Homo sapiens: one gene and its partner. The gene in region 1 interacts genetically with each later gene. Each region holds a gene or a part of one and is shown in the gene's direction. Other genes may lie near its edges. The genes, in order: KDM5A and ING3.

Region 1 (3,828 bases):
GGGTGTGGTAGCACACACCTGTAGTCCCAGCTACTTGGGAGGCTGAAGTGGGAGGATTGCTTTGAGCCTAGGAGGTCGAGGCTGCAGTGAGCCATGATTGCACCACTGCCCTCCAGCCTGGGCAGCACAAGACCTTGTCTCAAAAAAAAAAAAAAAAAAAAAACACTTCCATTGCTAGAGTCTTTTGCTCTGCTTTCTCGTCTGGATGGTGCTAGATAGAATGTCACATTCGGAGATGGGTAATATAATACTTGGGCCCAGGTTAGAATTTGCTGAGTTCCAGTTGCAGATACAACAAATTATTTACCATCAATGTGATTATTTTGGTAATGACACGTTACTGGTGGTGAAGAGAAGGTTTTGACAAGTTTGTTTTGTGTTGGATCCAGTTGGCTTTTCGTTAGCCCTTTTTGTCAGGTGCAAGCCCTTTGCTTTTTAACCTAGTAATAACAATGTGATTAGGCAGAGACCCTGCCAGATTACAGTCAATCCATTGACTTGTTTTATATGATTCTTAGTTGCTTTGTTTAGAATCTATTCTTGTAACCTGGGAATTCCTACTCTGATACAAAAGGCTGCTTCCAGAGAACAAGGGGAGATTCTGTTCCTACCCCTTCACTATCTTTTATTTGTCTTTTCAGCTTGCAGATCAGCATGGTACTGCTCATTAATCTCATCAGCATTAAAACTCCTAGGATATAAAATTAAAACCATCCATCATAGACGCTCGTAGATTCCTCTGCTGGGAAATATTTTTTCTCAAGATAGAAATGGGAATTTTCAGTTATGTGACTTAAAGACTTGAAAACAGTTGAAACTTGAATTAGACTGTTCAAATAATCTTTTTTTATATTAAAATATCTTATTATATGGTAGATTATTATTTTTCAGTTTTGAAAGTTTTGTGAACAGATGGCCAAGTTTTGTTGCACTGATTTTCAAGGGCTGATTGAGGGCCATTATTAAGAAAAGAGGCATTACAGTTGCGTACAGTTCTTGAATATCATCTTAGTGTACTGCTAAATCCCATTATGAAGAATTCATTGGCAGTCTGCTGAAAGGTACACTAGCTTATACCACACACAGCGGTACATTCTTAAGCACGTTGTTATCCAGAAGTTAATGACTATCTTTGTTTACGAAGTTGTATATAGGGTGACTAAGAGCAGCTGAAAAGAAATGCAACCCATGCCAAGTATAATTAGCTTTTTCCTTGAATACTGGAATCACCCGTTTACCCTAGTTAGAGGCCTTTGATATTTTTGGTGGTTGCTTTCTAGCACATTAGCTATCAGCCACTCTTCTAGAATTGCTTAACATGATGGGCTTTGCTTGAAAGCAGACTGGTAACCTATGAAAACATCACAAGTATTGATGATTTTCAGGACTAGGGATCACAACTGCAGTTTCATATGGTTGGATGGAGTAGTCTTTTTGTGGAGGAATTTATATGAGAATCTTAGCTTACTGTCTCTTTGGTAGTGGGTATTGGCAGGGTAGAAAAATAAGATTATGGATTTTCTAGTGTTAGCAATGTATTTGACAGCTGAGAAGAATGGTGGCAAGACTTATGGTAATTCAAGTTCAAATTTACTTTGCAGTCAGATGCTCTACCACTGAGCTATATACCCCTGCCAATTTACTTTGATGTTGATATCTTTGAATGAAAAAAAAAAAAAAAAAAAAGCCTATACTCTTGAGCATTTTCCCACAGAGCAAGCGATAATTGTATAATGAAAATTTTATTTGCCGGTTTATTTGCATTTGACCTGGTGGTTTTTTCCTTTGTGTGATGTCCTCTGTTGTGACCATAAATTCATAACTTAAAATACTTTGAACTTAGTATTCTTGCTTGAGGAAGAGCCCCCTCTTGGTTTAGGAGGAGGGGTAGGTAATTATTTAGTAAAATAAAATCAGTCATTTTATCTTAGTTACCATCCAGAAAATCATTACTTACGAGGTACATATTTAATGAAGCAAAGTCTGTCCTGCATCTTTTGGGATTGTGTCTATGTAGGTGAGCTTGTGGAAACTAATTTCAAGGAGAATCATAGACCTAATCAGAGCTCACTTAACATTGCAAGGACTTTAAGTGTAACAATGAGATTAATGGGCAGTACCAAGCTGATCTGCAAGCTGAACTTATTTTTCCCCCTCATCACTGTTATAATGAAATGAAAACAACTTTATTCAAAGACCTGCTACTATACTTCCTTTTGCTTAAAGGCAGTTTCTAAGAACCTACCAATGACATTACATGAAGACTTACTGTAATCTATATATTGTCAGTCAGACATATACTTGTATTAAGAGCAATTGGTAAGATTCTAGGTTTGAAAACCTGTAGAGAGGATTAAATGGTTTGTGTCCTTAGGCTGTCACATCTAAATTTATCTTCCCCTCCTTAACTTGTTGGTATAGGAGTTATTATAGGTTGTAGACTATAGAAGGTAGATTACTTAACCATAATTTTTTTTGTATTATACTTTAAGTTCTGGGGTACATGTGCAGAACGTACAGGTTTGCTACATAGGTATACACGTGCCATGGTGGTTTGCTGCACCCATCAACCACATTAGGTATTTCTCCTAATGCTATGCCTCCCCTAGGCCTGCACCCCTGGACAGGCCCTGCTGTGTGATGTTCCCCTCCCTGTGTCCATATGTTCTCGTTGTTCAACTCCCACTTATGAGTGAGAACATGCAGTGTTTGGTTTCCTGTTCTTGTGTTAGTTTGCTGAGAATGATGGTTTCCAGCTTCATCCATGTCTCTGCAAAGGACACGAACTCATCTTTTTTTATGGCTACGTAGTATTCCATGGTATATATGTGCTGCATTTTCTTCATCTATTCTATCATTGGTGGGCATTTGGGCTGGTTCCAAGTCTTTGCTGTTGTGAACAGCACTGCAGTAAACATATGTGTGCATGTGTCTATAGTAGAATGATTTATAATCCTTTGGGTATATACCCAGTAATGGGATTGCTGGGTCAAATGGTAATTCTAGTTCTAGATTCTTGAGGAATTGCCAGAGTCTTCCACAATGGTTGAACTAATTGACACTCCCACCAACAGTGTAAAAGCATTCGTGTTTCTCCACATCCTCTGTAGCATCTGTTGTTTCCTGACTTTTTAATGATTGCCATTTTAGCTGGTGTGAGATGGTATCTCATTGTGGTTTTGATTTGCAATTCTCTAGCGACAGTGATGATGAGCATTTTTTCATATGTTTGTTGGCTGCATAAATGTCTTCTTTTGAGAAGTGTCTGTTCATATTCTTCGCCTACTTTTTGATGGGGTGGTTTTTTTCTTGTAAATTTGTTTAAGTTCTTTGTAGATTCTGGATATTAGCCCTTTGTCAGATGGATAGATGGCAAAAATTTTCTCCCATTCCGTAGGTTGCCTGTTCACTCTGCTGATAGTTTCTTTTGCTGTGCAGAAGCTCTTTAGTTTAATTAGATCCCATTTGTCTATTTTGCCTTTTTTGCCATTGCTTTTGTTGTTGTAGTCATGAAGTCTTTGCCCATGCCCATGTCCTGAATGGTGTTGCCTAGGTTTTCTTCTAGGGTTTTTGTGGTTTTAGGTCTTACCTTTAAGTCTTTAATCCATCTTGAGTTAATTTTTGTGTGAGGTGTAAGGAAGGGATCCAGTTTCAGCTTTCTGCATATGGCTAAGCCAGTTTTCCCAACACCATTTATTAAATAGGGAGTCCTTTCCCCATTTCTTTTTGTCAGGTTTGTCAAAGATCAGATGGTTGTAGATGTATGGTGTTATTTCTGAGGCCTCTGTTCTGTTCTATTGGTCTGTATATCTGTTTTGGTACCAGTAC
Region 2 (3,828 bases), on another chromosome or scaffold:
AGATCAAGGTGTCCACTGACTCAGTTCTGGAGGAGGGCTCCCTTCCTAGATGGAGACTGCTGCCTTCTCACCGGGTCCTCACATGATAGAGGGAGAAAGAGTGTGCTCTGGTGTCTTTTCTTATAAGGGCACCAGCCTTGTCAGAGTAGGACCCCACTCTATGACCTCATTTAACCTTTACCACCTCCTCACAGGCCCTGTTTCCAATTATAGTCACGTTGGGGGTTAGGGCTTCAACATATGATTTTGAGACATAAGCTTGCATTTCATAACACGTGTCTATGCAGATTTGCACATGCATGTGTGTATAAGTTTGTCAGTAGGAACCACAGTGTATACTTTCTTGTTACTGGCTTTTTTCTCTAAATCAGGTATACCGAACATGATTTTTCTTTAAGATCATATTTTTAATTTTCACATAGTTATCTCTTATGCCATCCAGTGTAGTTTTCTTAACCAATACCTAGCTATAGATTATATTAGTGGTTTTAATTTGTTTGAAATTAGGGATAATATTACGATAGGCATTTTTTAAATGTAATCCATTTTATACATCTAATTTCTTGGATAATCTTTTAGAAATAAAATTAGGCTGTAAATATTTGACAGACACCAAAATATATTTTCTAGAAATTTATTACCAAAAATTAATAAACATACCGGTTTACTAAACCCTGTCCAACACTGGATATTATTTTCTTTTAAAAACTAAGTACCAATTTGGTAGTTTTATATTATGATTGTTTTAAATACACTAGTATTATTGAAGTTGGACATTTTTTGACCATTTTTGTTTTTTACATTATGAATCGACTCCTAATGGTGTCGGCTGATTTTTCTATTGTTTTTGTTATGTACTCTAAATATTTGCTTGATTTAGTTTTTTAAAAATAATTCTAAAATTTTAATTTTATGTAGTTATGACTGTTAATTTTTTTTTATGAAGCAAGCCATGGATTATATACTTAGAAGGGCTTTCTCTTTGGCTCTTCTTTCTACAAAAAATTGTCTTGTATAATATTTTCTCCTAGTTTTTATATGGTTTTGTCTAGTTCTTTGCATGCTTCAGTTTCTTCACATTTAAGACTTAGTCTATCAGCAGATTATTGTGTCTAACAGTATGAGTTGCCAGTCTGATTTTTAAAAATTTTAACAATTTGTTAGCTGTTCCACTATCACCCGATAAACATTTTTCAGTACAAATGATAGAAAAGCATATCCTGTATCCTGACAACAAAAGTAGATTACTTGCAAAAGAACAAAATCAGACTGAACCTAGAGTTTTCCTCTGTAACACTAAAAAACTAGAAGGTGATGGAATATGTCTGTAGAGCTTTCAGGGAAAAATTAAGAGCCCCCAAAAACTTGATATTCAGAGAAGTTATTTCTCTGCATAGGACCATGTAAATATATTTTCACTCATGCAGAGAATCAGAAGATATGCCATCTAGTTAATCCTGTCTGAAAAATTATTCAATCCACTGAGAACTTCAGTGAACTCAAGAATTAGCAAGTTATGCCCTAAAGTGCTGGTGATGAAGAGCAAAAGAAAAATGAGAAAGGACATAAAATAGATAAGTTTAGAAGTTTCAAGGAAGGAGACTATTAATTGCAAAAATATAAATGACCTAATGTGACCCAAGAAGTAAAAACTTTCAGTAAGTAAATAATCAAGAAAGGAACTTAAAATTTTTACAATAAGAACTACCCAGAAAGATGACTCCTTCATCCGGGTGATTTATATGTCAAGTTCTTCCAGACTTCTGAAGGGCAGATAATTCCTGTGCATTTCTTCCCACCCTTGCCCCACCCTGCCCAAAAGAGTATTTCAGGAAAAAATTATTATACCTTGATTCTCAATGTAATTGTATATTCAGTGTATTTCCCTTTATTTTCCAGCAGTATCATACATAAACAGTTAATTGGTATCTAGGTGTTTGTTACATAGTCATAATAAAGACATTTAATTTTTTTTAACTAGGTATCTTATGGTGAGATGGTGGGATGTGATAACCAAGATGTAAGTATTACATTTTTCTATTTAGGAATGAAAAAAATCACAGGTTGTTATTACTTGAATATTTGTCTTATTTGCTGTATGGTTTGGTCTAAGAAAACAGGTTTGCAGGTATATTAGTTATATTATGCTAATGCTAGAATATTCCTCTTCAAAATAGGGTAGTGTCCCTTAATGTGTTCCCTATTTTAATTTTTAAAGCTAATTTTATGGTTTTATGTGCAGATTGTCTCAGAAGTGTTATGTTGTATGAAAATTATAAATACCCTCCTTTCCCTTTACTAAAAAATACTGTGTTTACTAGAATCCAGTTCATTTATCACATTGAAGAAATGGAATTTTAAAACAATTCATTCTTTCAGGCTGCACCGTGCTAAAGTGAAGGGTGGGATAATTGAGGATCTAATGTGAGATTATCTTCCTCTCATGAGTATAATATTTTTTCCTGTACTCTGCAGGTGTCAGCTGATAAGAGCCACCCCTGATCTAAAAAGTAAAGGAAATTTGAAAGGAAGGAATTCTTGGTTTTTAGGAGACTTAATTTTAGTTAGAGATACGTTTTTTATTCAATACTGAGAATATTGTTGTCTAGTAATTTTGACTCCCTCCTTATTTAGTAGTGACAGGATCCTAAGATTAACAAGAGTTTTAAATTTGTAAAACAATCTGAAGATTGAGGGAGCTGGCTAGGTGCATTAAAATGTGTACTTTTCCTAGACCTGATAGGGTTACAGCAACATGCTCACGTAGATTGGGACAGAGCCTCCTTCTGTTTCCCTGTCTAGAATCCCTTGTAGGCTGTTTGTGGTTGTTGCAAAAACAATATTGCCCAACCATTTCAAGAACATCACTGTAAACTCTTCTGGGGCAGTTAGTGAAAATGATGAATGAGATTTCTATGAGTACCAGCATCATGCTTCTCTGATTCTTCTTATTCCCAGTTGTGCTCTTCTGAGTGCTAAGACTTTCATGAAAGAGTTTTCTGCTTAATATGTTTCAAAGAGGAATAATTTTTCTCTACATTTCAAGGAATAGAAACACCCACGTAGGAAATGCAGGGCATAAGACATAAATTAATGTCTTTAATTACAATCAGCTTATTCTACTTTATGAGACAGCAAATAAGGCTGACTATTAAATAAAATCTTAAGTTATATTTACCTTCTACATAGAAGATTCATCCCACTTCTTTTTGCCCTTGAAAGCTGAAAACTAGTGAATTTTCATTCATTAGGATGAGGGGACTAGATTACATGGACCTCAGGATTCTTGAAGATGCATAATTTTTCTGTGCCTTCATTTCCTCATTCCTGAAGCTTATCATTTAGTCTAAATGATGTCTAAATAATCTAGATCTAAAAATTCTGATGTCACACATCTAATTATTGTTAAATTAAATGGATTATTCAGTCTCCTGAGCATATTTTAATATACTCTCTTGTCTTCAGAAGTACTGAAAACTTGTTTTTTGCAATTTTGCTTTCTAGTGCCCTATAGAATGGTTCCATTATGGCTGCGTTGGATTGACAGAGGCACCAAAAGGCAAATGGTACTGTCCACAGTGCACTGCTGCAATGAAGAGAAGAGGCAGCAGACACAAATAAAGGTGGTCCTTTTGTTTGATGAAGAAATAAACTTCAGCTGAAGATTTTATATAGGACTTTAAAAAGAAGAGAAGAGAAAGAAGAAACAATGCATTTCCAGGCAACCACTTAAAGGATTTACATAGACAATCCTATAAGATCTTGAACTTGAATTTTATGGGTTGTATTTTAATAATGTAAGTAAATTATTTATGCACTCCTGGTGTG

The links.
Region 2: changes in KDM5A (region 1) and ING3 together harm fitness more than expected from each alone (negative genetic interaction), as found in Homo sapiens cells (one large-scale study listed by BioGRID).

Annotation. Positions count from the first base shown.
Region 1 is NC_000012.12:302,305-306,132, reverse strand, and holds part of KDM5A (lysine-specific demethylase 5A), read left to right. Parts: intron 1-3,828. UniProt on the Homo sapiens protein: Histone demethylase that specifically demethylates 'Lys-4' of histone H3, thereby playing a central role in histone code. Does not demethylate histone H3 'Lys-9', H3 'Lys-27', H3 'Lys-36', H3 'Lys-79' or H4 'Lys-20'.
Region 2 is NC_000007.14:120,971,224-120,975,051, forward strand, and holds part of ING3 (inhibitor of growth protein 3), read left to right. Parts: exon of another isoform or gene 1-122; intron 123-1,981; coding exon 1,982-2,020; intron 2,021-3,504; coding exon 3,505-3,621; 3' UTR 3,622-3,828. UniProt on the Homo sapiens protein: Component of the NuA4 histone acetyltransferase (HAT) complex which is involved in transcriptional activation of select genes principally by acetylation of nucleosomal histones H4 and H2A.